Linked DNA regions of Homo sapiens: region 1 is reported to be linked to region 2. The links are microRNA targets in miRTarBase. Many come from high-throughput screens and were not tested one by one. Region 2 holds a microRNA gene; the other region holds the end of a gene's coding sequence.
The links. Region 2 holds the annotated microRNA hsa-miR-585-5p (CUAGCACACAGAUACGCCCAGA, at 3,986-4,007, opposite strand). A microRNA usually pairs through its seed, bases 2 to 8, with sites in the 3' UTR of a target mRNA and lowers its output. Matches are read on the target gene's strand: a 7mer-m8 pairs with bases 2 to 8, a 7mer-A1 pairs with bases 2 to 7 and ends in A, and an 8mer does both.

Region 1 (9,630 bases), not on the chromosome of region 2:
AGCGCAGCCGTGCACCGGCTCAAGAAGGACATCCGCCGCTGCCACCGTATGTCCCGCCGTCCCCTGCCCCGCCCGGACCCGCAGGGGGGCAGCCCCGGACTGCGCCCGCCCATTTCGCCCTTCTCGGAGACGGTGCGCATCATCAACCGCAAGGTGAAGCCGCGGGAGCCCAAGCGGAACCGCATCATCCTGAACCTGAAGGTGATCGACAAGGGCGCTGGCGGCGGGGGCGCCGGGCAGGGGGCCGGGGCGCTGGCCCGCCCCAAAGTCCCCTCGCGGAACCGCGTTATAGGCAAGAGCAAGAAGTTCAGCGAGAGCGTCCTGCGTACACAGATCCGCCACATGAAGTTCGGCGCCTTTGCGCTGTACAAGCCTCCGCCCGCCCCCCTGGTAGCCCCGTCCCCCGGCAAGGCTGAGGCCTCAGCCCCGGGCCCTGGGCTACTTCTGGCCGCCCCCGCCGCCCCCTACGACGCCCGCAGCTCTGGCTCCTCCGGCTGCCCCTCGCCTACACCACAGTCCTCTGACCCCGACGACACGCCCCCCAAGCTCCTCCCCGAGACCGTGAGCCCATCCGCCCCCAGCTGGCGCGAGCCGGAGGTGCTCGACCTGTCCCTCCCTCCCGAGTCGGCAGCCACCAGCAAGCGGGCACCGCCTGAGGTCACAGCTGCTGCCGGCCCGGCACCTCCCACGGCCCCTGAGCCCGCCGGTGCCTCCTCCGAGCCCGAGGCTGGGGACTGGCGCCCCGAGATGTCACCCTGCTCCAATGTGGTCGTCACCGATGTCACCAGCAACCTCCTGACGGTCACAATCAAGGAATTCTGCAACCCTGAGGATTTCGAGAAGGTGGCTGCTGGGGTAGCAGGCGCCGCTGGGGGCGGTGGCAGCATTGGGGCGAGCAAGTGAGGGGGCTCCACCAAGGAGGGGGGCTTGGGGGGGCCCTCCTGCCCGAAGTCATACTCTTGCTCCCACCCCACCCTTGCCCCCAGCCCTCTCTCCCTGTGCTTTGCTTGTCTCAAATGGCTCGGTGTTGACCCAGGGATGGGGCTGGGTAGTTGGGGTCCCAGAAAGCCGGGGGTAGGGGCCACCCTGGAATGGGGCAGGGGAAGGGCACACCCCCTGCCCATGCATGGTAGCCCACTGGGTGGTTTCTGGAAAGCCCTAGAAACTAGGGTTCCTCTGCCCCTTCCACATCCCACCTGTCTCTCTAGCTTGCTTCCTGCTCTCCTGTGCGGCGTCTGATTTCTCGGTGCTAACCTGGCAGCTGTGGGGCCCTTAGGAGCCCCCCACCGAGGGTGGACACAGTCCCTTTCCTTCCTGCAGATGCCTAGGCAGGAGGAGGGCTTCCTGCCTGTTTGGCAAAGTCCCAGGCAGAGGCCAAGGATGAGGCCTGACTCGGCTCCTCCCTCCACATCAGCCAGGGCATCAGAAGTTGGGCCAGGGCGGGGTCTTCCCTGCTCGATTTTGGACGAGGCCTAAGTAGACCCCCTATGCCCTGCCCCAGCCCTGGCTCTTTCCTAACCCCCTCAACGGTGGGAGGAACTGGCAGAGGGTGCGCCTGGCCACAGCCTCCCCGCATCTAAAGGCCCCTTCAGTTCTTGACCAAAGGTGCTACGAGAACCTGCCGTGGAAACTTCCAGTTGTGCGTCTGCCCCACTCGCTGTGTTTGTCCGTGGGTTCATACATGCATTGGGTGCTAGGCCCCAGGCTGCCGGGTGGCACCCTTTACAGTTCCTTTGAACAGGGGCATTGAAGGCCTGGACTGCCTCTCGCCTCAGTAGGCCTGGGGACCAGGCTTGGGTCTGGAGGTTTGCTGTGGAAGTCACCAGGCCTCCCCTCCTGGCCCAGGTGTGCTGGGGGCACCGTGCCCCCCACCCCCCTGCCCTCCTCAGGGTGGTCAGCCCAACCTGTCGGACCTTCACTTCACATCATGGTGGGGACCGAGATAGAGAGGGAGACCCCATTCCAAGCTCCCTCTTCCTCCGGGTGTTTGGGGAGGATGCTGAAGAATCCATTCCCGAGGGCCTCCCGGCTTGTCCCAGCCCCTCTTTTGCTTCTGACCACGGAGGCTTTCTCACAGCCCAGCCTGCCTGAAGCAAAGGAGGCTCCCGTGTCCTGGGCAGCTTCTGTTTCCCTCTGCTGCCTGGGAGCTGAGGCACCCGTGCCAGTGGCAGAGGCCACAGCCCCAGCCTTAGGCCAGGCCCTGGGAGGGCAGGCAGGCAAAGGGGAGACCAGAGGGTCTGTGTTCTCCAGGAGAATGAGGGTGTTGGTCCCAGAATTGGGACCGGGGCCCCGCTGGCCAGCCCTGGGCCACTTCCCGGGTCTCCATTGTGCGTGGGTGGCGTGTTCCAGGCGTGGCTGGAGCTGGCTTCCTGGCTGTGCTGCCATGGGCCCCTCCCTCAGAAGCACGTTGGCAGGAGGCCGATCAGAACCCTAGCGCCTTTGGTCCTAAGAATGGGAGGCTGCCTTCCTTCCCAATCTCCCTGCCAGGGCCCACAGCGTGGCCCTAGCCCTCCCCTCCCCGGGATGTAGAACGGGGACCCTCGCAGGGTTGGGGCGGGGGCTGATACTCCTCGGCCCCTCCCTACCCTGCCCTGTGTGTTGGCTTTGTGGCCGTCCAAGTGCCAATTGGCTTTTCGCCCAAATAAGGGCTGGTATTTCTCCTCTGTCCTTGGAGGTGATTTCCCCCTGACCCCCTCCCCCAGGTGAGTGACCACCTGGGTGCCAGTTACAGGTGTTTCCAGAGACCATAGAAATGTGTTTTCCTGAGAGTTCGTGTCATTCGTGACTTTTTTGTAAAGAAGTTGTGTTTTCAGAGGTGATTTTATGACAGGAAAGTGAAAGAATTAGTTTTGCAAAAAAACAAAAACAAAAAAAGAGGAAAAAAAAAAGAAATAGAAAAAAATATTGTGGGATTCCTATGGGGGGGTGGCGGGGGAGAAAGAGCTATTTAAGAAAAAATAGTAACGCAGTGATTGCACAGGTGAGGTGGCAATGTCAGGATGGGGCGGAGGCCTGGGCCCAGCTGGCAGGTCCCCTGGCATCGCAGGCACTGTGGAGAGGGCCTGGACCCAGATCTCCACACCCGTGCTTGCTCAAAGGGAAGGACAACAGCGGGCCCCCGGGAGCTAACCCAAGCTGCAGGTCCCGGCAAGCTGAGGTTTGGGAGGGTGGGGGTTGTCACTGGTGATTTTCTCCAGGGGGCTGGTGAGTGGGCAGTTTGGTTTCTTGCCCCCTTCTGTTCCTTTCCCAGTTGTTGGGCCATCTGGTCCCCACCACCGCCACCCTATGGGGGAGACCTCCCTCCCCACGGGTCACCCTAAAGCCCACAACCTCTCTGAGCCTCCCTGGCCTGAAAGGGGATGCAGGCTTCAGGAGGCAAGAAGCTGGGCCCCTGGGGGTGGCTGGGGAGAGGGAATGCATTTCCCTTGCCACAGGTGGTCTGCTTCTGCTGGCCTGAGCTCCAAGTGGAGCAGCCCGGGCCAGCCTTGGTGCATGAAGAGGCACCAGGCACACCGCCTTGAGGTGGGCAGTGCCCATGGGGGCCCGAGTGGATGGGACCGAGGGTGAGTGGAGCCTCCTTCCTCCCCTCTCTAGTACCCCCGCCTCCCACACACTTGCACGGATCGGCCTCCCTTGGGAGATCAGCCTCCATGGGCCCCTCGTCCACCCTTGCTGCTTTCCATTTGCCTAATTACCAAGCAGAAGTTGCAATCTGGTTTGCTTTATTTTTGTATGTGAAATAACCCCCAAAGCCCAATCTCCTCCTACGTTCAATATTGGTTGGGGCATCCGTCATCTCCCCTTAAGTGCGCCCCCTCCCCACCCAAGTATCATAGGAAACCGGTGAGGTCTGGTGTCTCTGGTTTGAGACGGTAAGTTGGGACCCATCCCTGTCTGGGTGCCCACTCTGACCTTTAGTTTGCCCTTCTGTGAAATGGGTGTATTGGGTAGCAAGCCCTCTTCAGAAAGCGCTGCTGGTGTCAGAGCAGCTGCCCAGTACCAGGTGGGGGGTCAAGGTTGCTGGTACTGGGGCCCCCAGCTGCCCACAACCCCTCTTTGTTCTCACCCTGCAAAGGGGTCAAGGTCAAAATGAGCCTCATCCTTCCTATGATCTGGGAAGAGGTGATGATCAAGTCCCCAACTTCAGTGTGAGGTGGACAGAGTTGGGGGGATGGCCCCTTTTTGAAGAGGTGAAAATGGTTTTGGAGAAGCGCAGCTGCTTCACTGGGGGAATGCGGCAGGGACTGGGGCCCAGGATGCTTTGGCCTATGGGGAAAAGCCCTTTAAAAGGCAGGGCCCAGGCCCTGGAGCCAGCACAAGACTGGCCTCGAGCCCCTGAGCCAGGAGGTCCTGGAGGAGAGCCAGGCCGGTGGGCCCGCCCAAGGCTGGAGGGTCAGCCCCAACAGGGAGCTGGGTTGGCCAGGGGGCTGGACTGCTACCAGCCTCTCTGGCCTATGGGGACCCAAGAGGACACATCCCCCTTTTGCCCACTCTTCTGTGTCATTTTGTTGTTTTGGTTTGTGGTGGTTTTTCTTTTTTCTTTTGTTTTTCTTTTTTCTTTCTTTCTTTTTTTTTTTTTTTTTTTTTTTTTTTGCACTTCGCCCACACAGGACAGTGGAGCCCCACCTGGTCAGTTCCACTTCCGGGCTCCCATGCACTTGCCCAAGGCGGCCTCTTTGGGACGGGGATGGTTTGAGGAAACACTTTTAAAGAAAAAAGGAAGACATTGAAAGGTTTTAGTTTCTTCCCTATCTGCATGTCCTCTCATATAGAAAGCCCAGAATTAGGGGCTAGAACTCCAGGAGAGGGTCTCCCCGACTCATCTCTTGCTGACGGTCACCAGGATGCAGAAATAGGGAGATGGTTAGTGGGGGCCAAAGATGCCCCCTCCCAGGCCTTCGTGGTTCCCTCCTCCGCCCCCTGCAATCTTTGGAGGAGTCAGTGCCTCACTCCAGCAGTGAGTGCCTACTGTATGCAGGTAGTCAGCCAGGCAAAGAGAGACTAACGGTCTCATGGGGGAACCCTCTTGCGGGAGGCCGGGTAGCTGGAGCGAAGCGTTCCGGCTGCCCTTGCTGCTGGGTGGAGTGGAGAGGGAGACTTCTTTTTGTTGGTTTTAATTTAAAAACACAAAGGCCTAAAGAAATACGTATCTTATAATTTTTTTAATTTTTGAGACGTTCATTTAATGAATTGTGCACGAATGAATTCTATATATATAAAATATACATATATAGCTCTATATTTGGGGAGGGGCACTGTCTCTTTTTTCTCTCATTTTTAAAATGAAGTGTTGTTGCCTTTGTATGTGGTTCAACCATCCAGCTCCCAGCTGGCTAAACTTTGCCTCCAGTGGTCAAAGATGGGAAAAGAGTGGGGTTGGCAGGAGATGGAAAACGGAGGTGCCGCCCCAGCATGGGGGGCAGGTCCCCCAGTCCACCCTGCCCCTCCCCCTGTGGAGAAGACGCTTAGTTGGGGGTGTGGGTTTGGGCTCCATTCTGGATTCGGCGGTTCCGGGGGAGGGGTGGGTCTGTGCCGATTACTCTGTCTTGTACGTTTGTTCTGCTGCTCTTCAATATTGTATCAACGCCAGGAAAGGGGGGTGAAAAGCCTCTTTTACCCCCCAAATAAATTGTCACATTCCGAAGCTGAGGCCTAGCCCCTAGGTTGGGGTGTGTCTGTGTCTTCTTCCAGCTGTGACTGGCTTTTCAAAAGTAGCAGGCCCATGTCCCTCCAGTGACAGGTGAAGAGGGGGAAGCCCTGTCCCACCGCTGGCACTCACTTGCTTCCCGGTTCCTATCTCCCACACTCCCCCAGCTCACATGTGCCTCAGTGGGAAAAAGAGATGCCTGCTGCTTCTTGGACCCTTGAGAATAACGGGTAGGTGAGAGTGGGAGGATGGAGGTCTCATCACTGCCTGTCCCTCAGTGGGAATCACAGCACCCGCAGAGAGGAAGGGGCCTCTGGGGTTGTGGCCCCAAAGCCCAGAAGGGAGCAGGCCGGAATGGGGCACCAGCTGCTCTTGCCATTGGGTCCTACAGTTTGGCACCCAACCGTGCCATAAAGTCCGATATCACATTCGGATAATGAGAATGGTGGTCTTCGAGTTTGTTTTCTGGGTGCCATGTGCCTTCTCTCTTGAGGTGACGCACCCTCTCCCCACATAGGTGGGCTTAAAAGCAGCAGCCCCAGGCAAACTTCCATGCCTTCCCCAGGTGCCTGGCGTTCCACCTGCAAGCTCCCGATGACTCCCGTGGCCACCTGTTTGCCAGGCCTCGGACAGGTAGCGCTCTGGTCTCCCCTTCCTCACCACCCCACCTCCTGTCTGGCCTCTCTAGTATCTCCCCGCCCTGCAGCCTGGGGTCCTGAGCGCTTCTGCTTTGGCAGCGGCTCTGGCCTGGTCCACCAGTCTCCATCCTGGCCTGCACCTGCCCCCTGTGTCTTCCACACCAGTGCCATAGGGGTCAGGGAGGCTACCGCCCCAGCGCCACGGCCTCTAGGCAGGCAGGAGTGTGATCTAGTTCCTTGTCATGCCTGGTCCCGGCGCTGGGGATATTCAATGCAGACAGACCCTGCTGTTAATTTCCAGGCTGCAATGCCCAGAGCCCCCACAGCTCAACACAGCCTGTGTGCCATCTGCAAATGGCTGAGGTGCAAAGTCTCCCCTAGCCTCCACCTCCCCGCCCCCCTCCTCCTTGCCTCCCTTTGCCTGAAGCCCCTCCCCTGCCACCTGCCCTCCCGGGCCCTGCCCTGTCTCCTCCCTCGGTATTGACCTGCGGTTTTGTCCTTCCCCCTTCCTAAGGACAGGGCTGGGTCTTCATCCCCTCTCTGCCCACACCTCAGTGTCTGGCACATGGTAGGCCCAGATCATCTCCGTCACCAAGCTCAGTCCTCTTCCTATGCTGGCTGGGACAGTGAGGCTTGGGAGCGGCTGAGAGGTAGACCTGGGGCTCAGTGCAATCAACCAACTGCCTCTGAGCATTACCAGTGGGCCTGGCCTGGGCCAGGCAGGGGCCAGCAGGACAAATGGGAGTGTGTCCCTGTCCCGGATACGGGGCTGCCACTGGGCAGGCAGGTGGGAAGGGACCCACAGTGAAGCACCCACAGGGCAGGGGAGGCCAGCCAGTAAGCCAGGGCTGGTCCTGCTCAGTGCCACTGCTGCACCTCACGGCCACCTCCTTGTCATCTTGAGCACCTGCCTTGGTGTTCTACTCCCAGAAAGCCCTCATTCGTACTTATTTTTTTGAACCCCAAATTATTAGCGCACCTACTATCGGCCAAGCCCTGGTGAGCACGTCACTGGCCCTAGCCCATGTCCCTAACCCGTGCCCAGCGAGCCCATGAGTTATGAGCAGATGTCATGGGGAAGAGGAGGCCAGAGAGGCGAAGTCATTAACTTGTTCATTTGTCCAAGGGGGCACAATTGGAGCAGGGGAGTCGGCATTCACCCCAGCCCCATCTGTTTGCCCCTGAACCCCAAGCTCTTGGGAATGAGGACATGGGGCAGCCCATGTGAGGCAAGTGCAGGCCGAAATTAGTCACCGTGTTCCTGATCACAAGTCCTGCCATTGCTAAGCAGGTAAGTCTCCTTATTAGTTGAGGGTTAATGAGTGAGGAGGCTGTGGCAACTTCTCGAGGAACTGAACAGTTTGTGAAGAGGACTGGGCAATACCAAGCAATTGCCCGAGAGCGAGCTGACTCGGCTTAGAGAGGGGGGTGCCTGCCTGGCCCCCACCCCTTCCTTGTCCTATTCCTGGGCCTCCTCCCAGGGTTAAGGGTCAGCGGTGGGATGAAGCTCAGGGGTGGGGCAAGCCAAGGAGTAGGGGGATGGGATGGGATGTGGATGACTATTTTTGCAAAATTACCTGGTTACGTTTGTTTGTTTGTGACAGAGTCTTGCTCTGTAGTCCAGGCTGGAGTGCAGGGGTGCAACCTTGGCTCACTGAAACCTCCGCCTCCTGGGTCTGGGTTCAAGCAATTCTCCTGCCTCAGTCTCCCGAGGAGCTGGGATTACAGACACATGCCACCACGCCCAGCTAATTTTTGTATTTTTAGTAGAGACGGGGTTTCACCATGTTGGCCAGGCTGGTCTTGAACTCCTGACCTCGTGATCCACCTGCCTTAGCCTCCCAAAGTGCTGGGATTACAGGCATGAACTACCATGCCCAGCCCTTGGTTGCTTTTTAAAAGCTAAAAGTTGAAATTTTTTGGTCCATGTCAAGCCATGCCTGGAGTGAATAGGGAGGTGACAGAGGCCACATCAAATTGCCCAGCCCCCCCCCAAGCCAGCTAACAGGTCTGCGAGCTGATTCTGTGCCCTCTTTGTTCAGGCTGCTGGCTTCTGGGAGGACAGACTTCAAAAAGGCCTGGTGGCCTGCAGAGGCCGAGCACAAGGACACCTGATCCACAGCGGTGGGGTCACAAAGGAAGCAGCAGGGGGAGGCCCCGTCCTGGCCTCCAGACATCCACACGCGCTGAGCATCAGCCAGGGAAGCTGTGAGCTCAGGAGGGAGTCCCAGGAGGGACAGAGGCCACTCCAGGGCGAGACTCGAAATGACCCTGGCGAGGATAATGAGGCCTGAGGCAGTGGGGACAACAGAAAGTGGCCAGAGTGGATGGGATGTTTGGAATATTTAGAATTTGGTGAGGGACTGCCTTTGAGAGCTTGTATAAAAGCCTTTTCGAAGAAGCACCTGGGTATGTGGTATAGGCAGAGGAGTGAGTGAGTGCATTCTTCTCAGGTGGAGAACCTGGTGGAGGACACAGCTTCCAGGGACACATTGGGAGTAAATCAGCCATAGGGTCCTGGAGGGATTTTCATCTATGGATTTGAGGCTCAGAGCGAGCTCCTGCCCACCCAGGCACTGCTGGACAAATCTGCTGAAGGGTCTTTGTCCCTTAGTGCACCTCATCTCTGAGATGACTGGTCACCAGCCATCCTGGAAGCACCACCACGGACATAGGTGCTTAGCTCTGGAAGCCACTGGAAATTCCAGGGGTTAATGTCCAGCCCCTTGCCGCCCGCCTCTACCCCATCAATCTCATACCTTTTATCTCCATGAGCAGCCCCCATGAGGTGAGGCTGGGGAATGATTAACCCCATTGGATAGGTGCAAGGCGAGGCCTGAGAGTTGTAGGGTGGGGATGCTCTGCAAAATCACTCAGAGGCAGAGAGAATGGAACCCAGGTCTGAGGCATGAAAAGATAGAACCTTCTGTCCTGCTAACCTTCTGTCTATACTTAAAGACTGGGTAAAACATAAACATTCTTTCAAATACCCAACTGAGTTTCCGAGATTAAAAAAAAAAAAAAAATCCCCAGGGACCAAAAACAAAGAGAAAAGCCAAAAATCACAGTGACAAGCAGGTGTTTATTCTTTGGCTGTCCTACAGGGTGGGCCTATGGGTGGCAAAGGGAGGCAGGAGATGGGCGTGGGAGGTGGTGGCTTTTGCTAATGTTGGTAACCAAAGGAGCTTGGATTTTATACCTGTGGAGGGAGGGATAGGAGACAAGGCCTGGGACCCTTGCCAGCAGAAATTTGGAACCAGAATAAAACTGGACCCATATCCTCAATGAAAAAAGCAAATGGTGGGGAAAAATCACCCTTTCACAAAGGGAAAAGACAAAAAAGTT
Region 2 (10,109 bases):
GGCTATGCAGGCAAAATTAACTCATGTTGGGCATGATGTCTAGGAGATCCTTGTGATGGGTAGGAGGCTGAACTACATGACCTATGGAGTCCTGTCAATAACTCTGTAATTGTCATCTTTTGGGAGCCCAGAGCCAAATGAATTTTTAGAAAATGAAATATAGCTTGGTCCTTGTTTTCAAGGAGCCTGGAGTCTAGCTGAGGATGAGCTAAGACTCAGGAGATTCTTAGAGAACAAGGCAAGAATTTGCAAAATGAAACGTTAAGGGATGTGGTCTAAACACCAAGGGGAGTAGACAAGCAGGAAGTCAGAGAGAAGACCTCCTGCTCCTGAATAAACCTTTCAATGTGTGACGCCTCCACATTCAAGTTCCCACAGCATAGCTATCTCAATGGATTGTTCACTCAGTTACAGATTGAAGTAGTTGTTCTACTCTTTCCCCTCCTTCTCACAACTGCACTTGAGTAGTCTTAAAAAAAATAAACAACTTTAAAAAAAAAAATCCCATAGTGTGATTTGAGGACTCCTACTCAGGAAAGGGGTAAGAGGAGCCAGAATTAAGAGGCCCCCATAGCACTTCCTGACCCTTCATTTACCACCAGCAAAGAGGTTCCAACCAAATCAGAACAAGTTGGCAAGGAAGCAGTGGCCTCAGTTTCAGTTATGCACTCACTACGCTTTCCACCTGAATGGGCCACATCACAGAAAGGGCAAGGTTCTGTGCTTTTTCTCTTCCCTATGAGCTAAGCAGGGGATGCAGGAAGGATCAGACCGAGGACGGGGTATTCGTCCTCCCTGAGAGCTCACCCACGTTAGCTAGTTTTGCCAACAAAGGTTACAGTTCGTCTTTATGACTGTCCATTTCTTGGTTCCAGGACACTTTTCTTCCTATTTCTTCTGGCTTAGAGGTGATAATTGCTCCATTGCTTCTATGGTCTTGGGTTCTACAGTATCTCTCTGAAACATACCCACACCTCTGAAATGATCCCTGTGTAAATAAATCAACTCTCCTGGAATATTCCTAATTTGAATTTTCTACCTGTTTTCTATTTCTTACTGATACACCATTCATTCATTCATTCAACAAGTCTTCATCATTAAGTTTCAGGAATTGTGCTAAATGCTGGTATATAGCTATAAACAATAGTGGCGTGGTCTCTGCCCATAAGAAACTCAGAGTTTAGAGAGGAAGAAATAAAGGAGTAATTACCATAGACTATGATAAACGCTGTATACCATAGGTTGGCAACCTTTTTCTTTAAAGGCCAGATAGTAAATAATTTGGGTTCTGCCAGTCATGTTTTCTATCACAACTATTCAACTCAGCTTTGTAGTGTGAGAGTAGCCTTAGACAATATATAAATAAATGAGTATGGCTGTGTGCCAATAAAACTTTATTTACGAAGACAGACTGAAGGCTGGATTTGGCCCAGGGGCTGTCGTTTATAGACTCCTGCTCTCTACTATGCCAGAGGCATAAACAAAAGCTTACAGAAGAGTATGGAGGAAGGAGTATGGAGTAATTGGGGTGTAGGGTCGGGGGAGGCATCCAGGAACAGGTGACATTTTAATTGAGACCTCAAGAAAGAGTTGGCTATATTCAGGTTGGCATAGGAATATTCAAGAGAGAGAAAAAGAATTTTAGGTTTAAAAACAAAAAACAAAAAAAAACCCCAGCATGTATAAAAGCCCAGAGGCATTGCCTCAGGATAACTGCCAGCAGATTTATTTGGCTGTTAAAGCATGTTTCAAGAGAAACACAGATCTTTCTTCCCTTCCTTCTTTCTTCTTTTCTTTCCTTATTTTCTTCTTTCCTTTCCTCCCTCTCTCTCCTTTCCTTAATTCCTTCCTTCCTTCCCTCCCCATCTCCTTTCCTTTTTTTAAAATCCCTCCCTCCTTTCCTTGCTTCTTTTCTTCCTACAACAAACTTTTATTAAACACCTACTCCAGACCTGGCACTATGCTGATGGCTAAGGATAGACAGTAAAACAATAGCAAAGAAGTTCCTTTTAAGGAACTTTTATTTCTTTGCTGAATGCCGCAGACAGATTCTAAGGTGGTCCCCAGTATCAACACCTTCCCCTCTCCTTGAGTGGGCAGAACCTAGAGACCTGCTTCTAACCCATGCAACACAAAAAAGGTGGTCGGATGTCACCTTTGTGACATGTTACATGGGACGGCAATGCCCGTCTTGCTATAGGACTCTTTCTCTTGCTGGCTGTGATGAAGCAGGTGGCCATGTTTGGGAGGCCCACATGCCAAGGAACTGGAGGCAGCCTCTACCCACAACCAACCAAGAATTCAAGACAACCAGCAGGAACCTGAAGCCTTCTAATAGACTGCAAGGAACTGAATTATCCCAATAACCTTGAGAGCTTGGAAGCAGGTCCTTCTCCAGTTGAGCCTTGAGATGAGATCACAACCTCAACCAAACCCTTGTGTGCAGCCTTATGAAACCCTGAAGCAGAGGGCCGAGACAAATGGAAGGTGCTGAATGCCTGTTGTTTTAAGCCACGAAGTTTGCTATCATTATATGACAATAAAAAACACAGGGGGAGATAGGCCACCACAAATAAACAAGGAGACTACAGACTGCAATATGGGCATAGCTAGGAAACAGTACAGGGTGAGGTGAAGAGAATAAAGATATGGTGAGAGGCAGTGAAGGCACTGCCCTCCCTAGGGTGTCCAGGAAGAACCTCTCTTAGAGAGTGAGATTTGGTCTGAGACTAGAAGGAAAAGAAGGATCCAGTTGAAGGACAGGCTGAAGGGAGACGTTTCCAGGTGGAAGAATGGAAACAAAAAGGTCCAGGTGACGGCAGCAGAGTGACACCAAATGGGATCACAGAGGCAGGTGGTGTCCAGGCTGTGAGGCATCTATGGGGCTGACAACATGCTTGGGGACTGGAACCATAAAAGGGGCCGAGCAAGGAAACCACCAATTTAAGAGCCCTCAGCCTCATTCCCCTGCCATCAATCCTGCCAGATTAATTTCCCCCAAATGTCAATTTCATTCCACAGCTCAATAAGAAGGGGGTTCTCATTACTGCCCTCAGCTTGCCTCATTTAATTCTTTCTTCTTTATAGCCACAGACATGTATTGAGCACCTATCAGATCCAGGAACTGTGCTAGGCACTTCATTGGCACATATGTTCCTGCTGTCTGTATGCTGGCCTCAGAAGCCCTCAAAGTCCTGCGTCCATTTAAATCCTACTGCTCTGTTATGGGCTGAATTGTGTGCCTCAAAAGATATATTGAAGTCCTAACCCCAGCTACCTATGAGTGTGATCGTATTTGAAAGTAGGGTCTTTGCAGATGTAATCAGGTTAAATTGAGGTCATTAGGGTGGACCCTAATCCAATAGGACTGGTGTCCTTATTAGAAGAGGAGACAGGGCTGAGCAAAGTGGCTCACACCTATAATCCCAGCACTTTGGGAGGCTGATGCAGAAGGATTACTTGAGGCCAGAAGGGAGTTTGAGACCAGCCTGGGCAACATAGCAAGACCCTATTTCTACAAAAGAGAAAACCAGCCAGGCATGGTGGTACTTGCCTATAGTCCCAGATACTCAGGAGGCTGAGGTGGCAGGATTGTTTAAGCCCAGGGGGGCAGAGGCTGCAGTGAGCTATGATTGCACTGCTCCAGCCAGAGTGACAGAGCAAGACCCTGTCTCTGAAAAATAATAAAAAGACGACGAGACAGACATGCAGGTATAGTGCCGTGTGACAACAGAGGCAGAGACTGGAGTGATGCAGTTACAAACCAAGGAATGCCAAGGGCTGCTGGCAAGCCCAGGAGCCAGGAAGGAGCAAGGAAGGGCCCTCCCCTGCAGATTTCAGAAGGAGCCTGGCCCTGATGACACCTCAATTTCAGATTGCGAGGCTCCAGAAGTCTGAAAGGATGATTGCTGTTGTAAGGCACCCAGTTTGTGGTACATTGTTACAGCAGCCCTAGCATACAGATACGCCCAACGTTCAGGCTTTCTCTGGGCGTATCTGTGTGCTAGGGCTGCCATAGCACAGACACCCCACACTCCCCCTGCAGCCTCCCCCAGCTGCTCCATCTCGTGCTGGCTTCTCCCTTCCCTGAACTTCTGAACTTCTGGATCATTTACCCTCTCTCTGCACAACTCATTTTGGTCTTTCATCACGTTGCCTTGCTGCTGCCTGTTTCCTGTGTGTCTGCCTTGTCTCCCAAAGGACCTTGAAGAGGATACTCCCCAACTTCCTCCAGACACCTTGGATGAAGGCCTCATGGAGACACTCAGAAAAATGTACACTAGGTTTCTCGGGGTGGAGAAACGGGGTTTTTTTTTTTTAAACATTTTACATTTTGCTTATCAGTATTATCAATGTTTTCTGGAGTAAACATGTATTATTCAATATACCTCCTACCTTCCAAAAAAAACCACTGAAAAAAGGAGTCCAGTTAACCTAAGACTCTCCCCATAGATAAAGTGACCATGCAGAGTTTAAGCCATTCAAGACTCTGGAATTTTAGCCATTTAGCCAAAGGAAGATGCTTTTTGGTTTTGGGGGTTGTTTTTTGAGACAGAGTCTCGCTCTGTCTCCCAGTCTGGAGTGTAGTGGTGCAATCTCGGCTCACTGCAACCTCCACCTCCTGGGTTCAAGGGATTCTCCTGCCTCAGCCTCCCGAGTAGCTGGGATTACATGCATGTACCACCATGCCTGGCTAATTTTAGTAGAGATAGGGTTTCACCATGTTGGCCAGGCTGGTCTCAAACTCCTGACCTCAAACCCACCTCAGCCTCTCAAAGTGCTGGAATTACAGGCGTGAGCCACCGTGCCTGGCCGGAAGATGCTTTTTGATGAGCCCAAGGGCAGACCTCTGAAACTGCTCACATCAGGCGGTCCTAATGGGTGTCTTCCTCTGTCTCCTCTCCCCAGTCCAAAGGACCTAATGCCACCCACCCAGCTACCCTGATGAAAGAGAGAAACAGCATGTGTTTGAAAACCATCAAATCACCTTCCTACCAGGTCAAGGAGAGCAGTGTTTCCCTTTGGGCCACCCTTATAGGGCTCCCATCTCATGCTTTACCTCTCCAGACTCACACCACAGGAGGCATTATTAACTATTCTGATTTTTGCACTTCGTTCTCATCTGTTACATAACCACATGCAAGTTTAAAAACATACACGCATTTGGGAAAGAAATGAGCTGAATTTGATTTTAAAAACTGGCTTCACACTACCTCAGTTGTTTGGGAACTAAGCCTCTCTGGGCTAAATTTTTGGCTTGGCAACACTCTCGCATATATAATTTTACACCTGCAAAAGCTTGCAGCCAGCCCTGTGCAGACAGCTACCTGCAGGGAGAAGAATGGGCCAAACAGAGGGGCAACCCGGGTGGTTGGATGTGGTCATGGTGAGGGCATGTAAAGAGGAGTATTGGGCATGGGGTCTCTTTTCCTTCATCCCTTGCACCAGGAGGACTCCCTGCCCCTGTTTTGCTCAGTTCAGCTCCATGCTCAAAAACAAACAAACAAACAAACAAACAAAACGTACAACTAGCTCTTTACTGGGAACAGCAGAGACGAACTTGCAAACTGGTAGCCCACCGGTGAGTTCTGGCCTGCAGACCTGCGTAGTCTGGTTCTCACTGTGATTTTCACATATGCAAATTAATTGCCAATTTGGGAGCATTTCAAATACAAATCTACAATTCTGGCTTGTCTCCAAAGGTCAGTCCATCAAATAACAATGGATTTTAGTGGCCATCATAAGCTGGTACTAAGAGGCAATTGCCCACTTTGCATAAGGTACATGCCTGCAATTCACCAGTCCACCTGATCCAATTCCCTCACTCAAGTTACCTGCTTAATCTTTTTTCGCATCAGAGTTTGAGATCCCTGCTGCCAAACATAGCGCTTAAGGTGGCAGGCCCTAGAATCAGATAGCCTGGGCTCAAATCTTAGCAAATAGAGCATGATTTTAGGCAGGTTATTTAACTCATCCCTAAGCTTCTGTTTCTCCATCTTAAATGGCCATAATCACAGTACCTACCTCCTAGGATACTGCAAGAATTAAATGAGATGATACGTATAAAGTGATTCTAGCCCAGGGCTGGTCATGCAGTAAGTACTCAAGAAGTAACCATCAATTGGCTGATTATTATTCAGGCAAAATGTGAGCACAAGTAAGATGATGATGTTGGCAGGACCTCCGTGCTTCTAACACAAAGGTGCACCTGGTCAAATCCACAGCTCCACCCCAAATCTCCTTCATCCACTTCAGGCACATCAAAGCATCTGCAGAGACAGTGCTTCCTTCCTGTCACACAGAGGACAACCCAGCCAACACACTCAGAAATAAAAAATTCTTCCTAAATTCTTCCTGTAATGACTTAAGGCAACGTATTCTTTTCTCAGCACTAACCTCCAGGTGGCGACTATCAGTCCAAAAGTTTCACCTTTTATTTCCCTTATCATGCCCAGAAATCTCAAACCCTTCCAAACTCCTTGCAAGGCCTGTTCTCAAAACACTTCCCTGCACTGCATAGGAGAGCACATGATAAAATGGCTCCTCCAATCACCGGGAGGCAGGAAACAAATCCTAGAAGAGACTGGGGCCAACCTTTGGAAATGTGGCAAGAAATGTAGGGAATACGGTATGGCAAGGATAGTGCTCTGTGTTCACCAAACTGTTCCATTTTCCTCCTAGGCAAACAACAAGATTAAATTTCCTGTGCCCTTTGAATCTAAGTGGGACCATGTGGCTGATTTCTGAAGAAAAGGAATGTGGGTGGAAATAATACGTGCCATTTCCAGGCAAGGCTATAAAACATCCTGCAAGCATGACACTCTCCTTCCCTTTCTTGTCTTCATGGCATGTAGAGATCATGTGTCATAAATGGAGGGGTCCCCCAGAGGAAAGCAGCCTGGGTTCCTAAGTGACAATATGGATCATAAGCCACCTACCACCACCCAGACCAGCTCTACTGGACTGGGTGGGTGGGAGGAAGAGGAAGAAATACAGCTTTATATTGTTTTGTTACTGATATATCTGGGCTTATTTGTTGCTGCAGCTTAGCCTTGTCTATGCTAACTGATACACCTAGCAATACGGCATAGTAGGAAAGAATGGCCCAAGTTAAGCATCCATGATCTTCATCCATGATAATCCAGAGCATGACTTTGTAAAATTTTCCTTCCTCATCTTTAAAAGGAGGAAAATAAACTGATCCCCTAGGGTCACAATAATTCTCACTGGCTTTGGATCCTAACACATATTACCTTAAGCAATGTTTTTAAGAAGGCCACTTAACTCCGGTCAATAGAGGTACAAATGCTGCACCCAACCAACATTAAGGTCCAAATAACTTTCTGCTATTTACTATGCAGGAGCCAATCTACAATGAGTGTTTACCATGTGCCAAGGACTATGCTAAACACTTCACATTTGGGGCCTTTTTTAATCCTCACAACCAGCCTATGAGGTTGATGCTACTTATTAGTCCCATTTTATGATTGAACAAATAGAGGCACAGGGAGATTAAGACACCTGTCTATGGTCACAAGCTGAGAAGTACCAAATGAACAAGGATTAGTGGCTGAAAATTTAGCAATCAACTTGCAGCAAGTAAATATAGAGTCCTAAAGGGTGAAAGAGAAATTGAAATGACCTGGTCAGAGAATTTTAGTAACATACTCAAAAAGTTTAGCTAAACTAATAAGCTCCAACTTACTGGGCTCCAGGGCCATATCTGATTTATGTTTGAATCCCTAAGGCTCAGCACAATACCTGGCACATGAAAGGCACAAATCAATATCTGTTGAATGACTGATGTTAACTTGAGCTCTTTATTGACAGTTTTAACTGAGTTACATTTGCCCTTAATTGACAATGGCTTGAGATCTAAAGTTGATGTACTTCACTTATACCAGTAAATCTGGGTATCAGTTAGAATTGGAATGACCATATGATTATCCAAACTTGAATACTTTTGTGAGTTAAAGGGGAAGTCATTAATAATTATACCACAGAAACAGGCAAAGATCAGATCAACACAAATGGTCATTCCCAGCTTGAGCCACAAAATATCGGCAACAGGAGTGGGTGACAATGGAAATACTCATATGGGGCCTGGTTGCCCACCATGTCTTTGTTCTTAAGGAGACCTTCTTCCTGTCCACTTGGGCTGAAGACCACTTCTAAGTCTATGGCTATTTGCAGGACACATCTTGGTTAAGTGTCATTTTCTGAATGGTGCCCACCTCCCAAGTCCAACCAGTCACAGAGCACATACACTATTAACTTTTAACATAGGTGCAGTAATCACTTTAAGAAAACGAAGGAACAGCCCAAGGAATGCAATGATTGCTGCAGGAATATAAACATGGACTGCATTGGAACAGGCTACATACTTTGTATAAACACTAATAAAGTGAGTTCAGGCTGAGCTGTGACTTTAAAGGAAATTCTTCCCCATAAACATGTCCTGCCATGCCCTAATAACTCTTTAATTTGATGCACATTTGGGAAGGATGATGCGAAGTAATCACAGAATAACGTTAAGGTCTGTTGCGAAGGAGGAGTGGCGGAGGGGGGAATGTGATGCAACTTGGTGCTAACACCATGCACCAGAGAGTTAGCTTCATTGCTCATTTCACACATGGAGGGAATTTGCCGAGTGACACGCAGGAAATCAGAGACAGGTCTCTGCAGGTTCGACCCAAGGAAATTCTGAATGTCATCTGATGGCACCACATAAGACTCCCAGTCATTTTCCTGCCTGTCTTTCCTTGCTGGAGACAGCAGAAGTGGCCCTCACTTGCAGGCGGAACTCTCCAATTTCCAGATCAAGGCTCTTCCAATTTGAATGAGATATAAACTCCTTGAAAGCAGAGAACCTTTCTTACACATCTGGGCATCACCCACAGAGCAGACACAGCCCCCATATCCATGAGAGAAGGCAACAGGGCACGGAGTTGAGGAACACTGGACAGCAGCTGTAGCATCAGGCCTCCAGTCCCAGTTTCATTACTACTCGTGTGTTTTGGGCAAACCACCCTTATCTGCAAAATGGGTTAGCAGCACTTGCAGAACCTCAGAGGGTTTTTGAGATGCTCAAGTGAGCCAATGCAAGACAAAGCATTTTATAAATTTTTTAAAAAGTTGTACTGCTGGAAAACTATAAAAATAACAATTAATAATGGTTTTCCCACGTATTGATTTATCATGTCATATCAGGCACTGTTCATCTCCCCTGAAATATTACAGGAATCCTATAAGGGGGACACTCTTATTATCACCATCATCGTATGTTATTATGAAAGCCAAAAATAGTATTTATGGGAAAGTGAGGTCCAGAGAGGTTAAATAACTTGCCCCAATTCACACATCTTCAAAGTATTATCCACGGAGTAATGATTCTGGAGGACAGGCCTGGATGGTCTGAGCTCCCTGCTCTTTGCTCTAAACTCTCAGGGACTTGAAGGTGCCCAGCTTGTCTCCTTTATTAGCCTGTAAGCAATAAGGGCAAGGGCTGTGGGGGTTCACCTTCATGTCTCCAGGACCCAGGGAAGAACTAGGGAGGTAAACCCTTTGGATCCAATGACTGCAGGTCCTCCCTCTCCTTAACCACTCTGACTTATATACCAACTCTTGTTGACTCCACGCAACCGGCCTTGGCCCAAGACACAGCTGATGCTGTCTTTGGCCAGGTGCTTAGCACTGGGCTCCTCCACTCTCTATGGTTCTCCACCTTTACTGACATGAGAGGCCTCAAACTAATGCCCCAGCTGCCTAGAAATGTGTCCCCAAACAGCCAGGCAGATCCTCTGCACTCACCAGGCTCATTCCAAGCCCCATGACTTTGCTCAGGCAACTCTCCCATCTGTAATACCCTCTCCCATGGATCAAAATGAACTGCAGCTGTCAGGAAGCTTGGCTGAGGAATGGGGACCTACTTCAGTAGAGTGATGAAGATTTGGAAAGGAAGAGAATGCAGTCTGACAGTGGGACCAGAGTGGGACCACCAACCCCATTCAGGCAGAAGCCACTTCTCCCATGTGGCACTGATAAAATGCCAAGGGGCAGGAATTAGGGAGGGAGAAGGGCCCAACTGCCTCTCCAACCAAAACTTCATG

Region 1: the mRNA of CBX6 is a reported target of hsa-miR-585-5p. Seed matches in the 3' UTR shown: 7mer-A1 at 1,247-1,253.

The regions. Positions count from the first base shown.
Region 1 is chr22:38,857,482-38,867,111 of GRCh38, reverse strand. CBX6 (chromobox 6) reads left to right here. Exons shown (of 5, transcript NM_014292.5): 5 at 1-5,690. The coding sequence ends at 903. Among named protein-coding and RNA genes, the nearest start is that of CBX6, 9.9 kb to the left of the region's middle. RefSeq lists enhancers at 373-1,184, 1,303-2,180, 2,181-3,060, 6,661-7,540.
Region 2 is chr5:169,259,664-169,269,772 of GRCh38, forward strand. MIR585 (microRNA 585) reads right to left here and starts at 4,031; the gene lies at 3,938-4,031. The region is part of intron 1 of SLIT3 (slit guidance ligand 3); the gene reads right to left.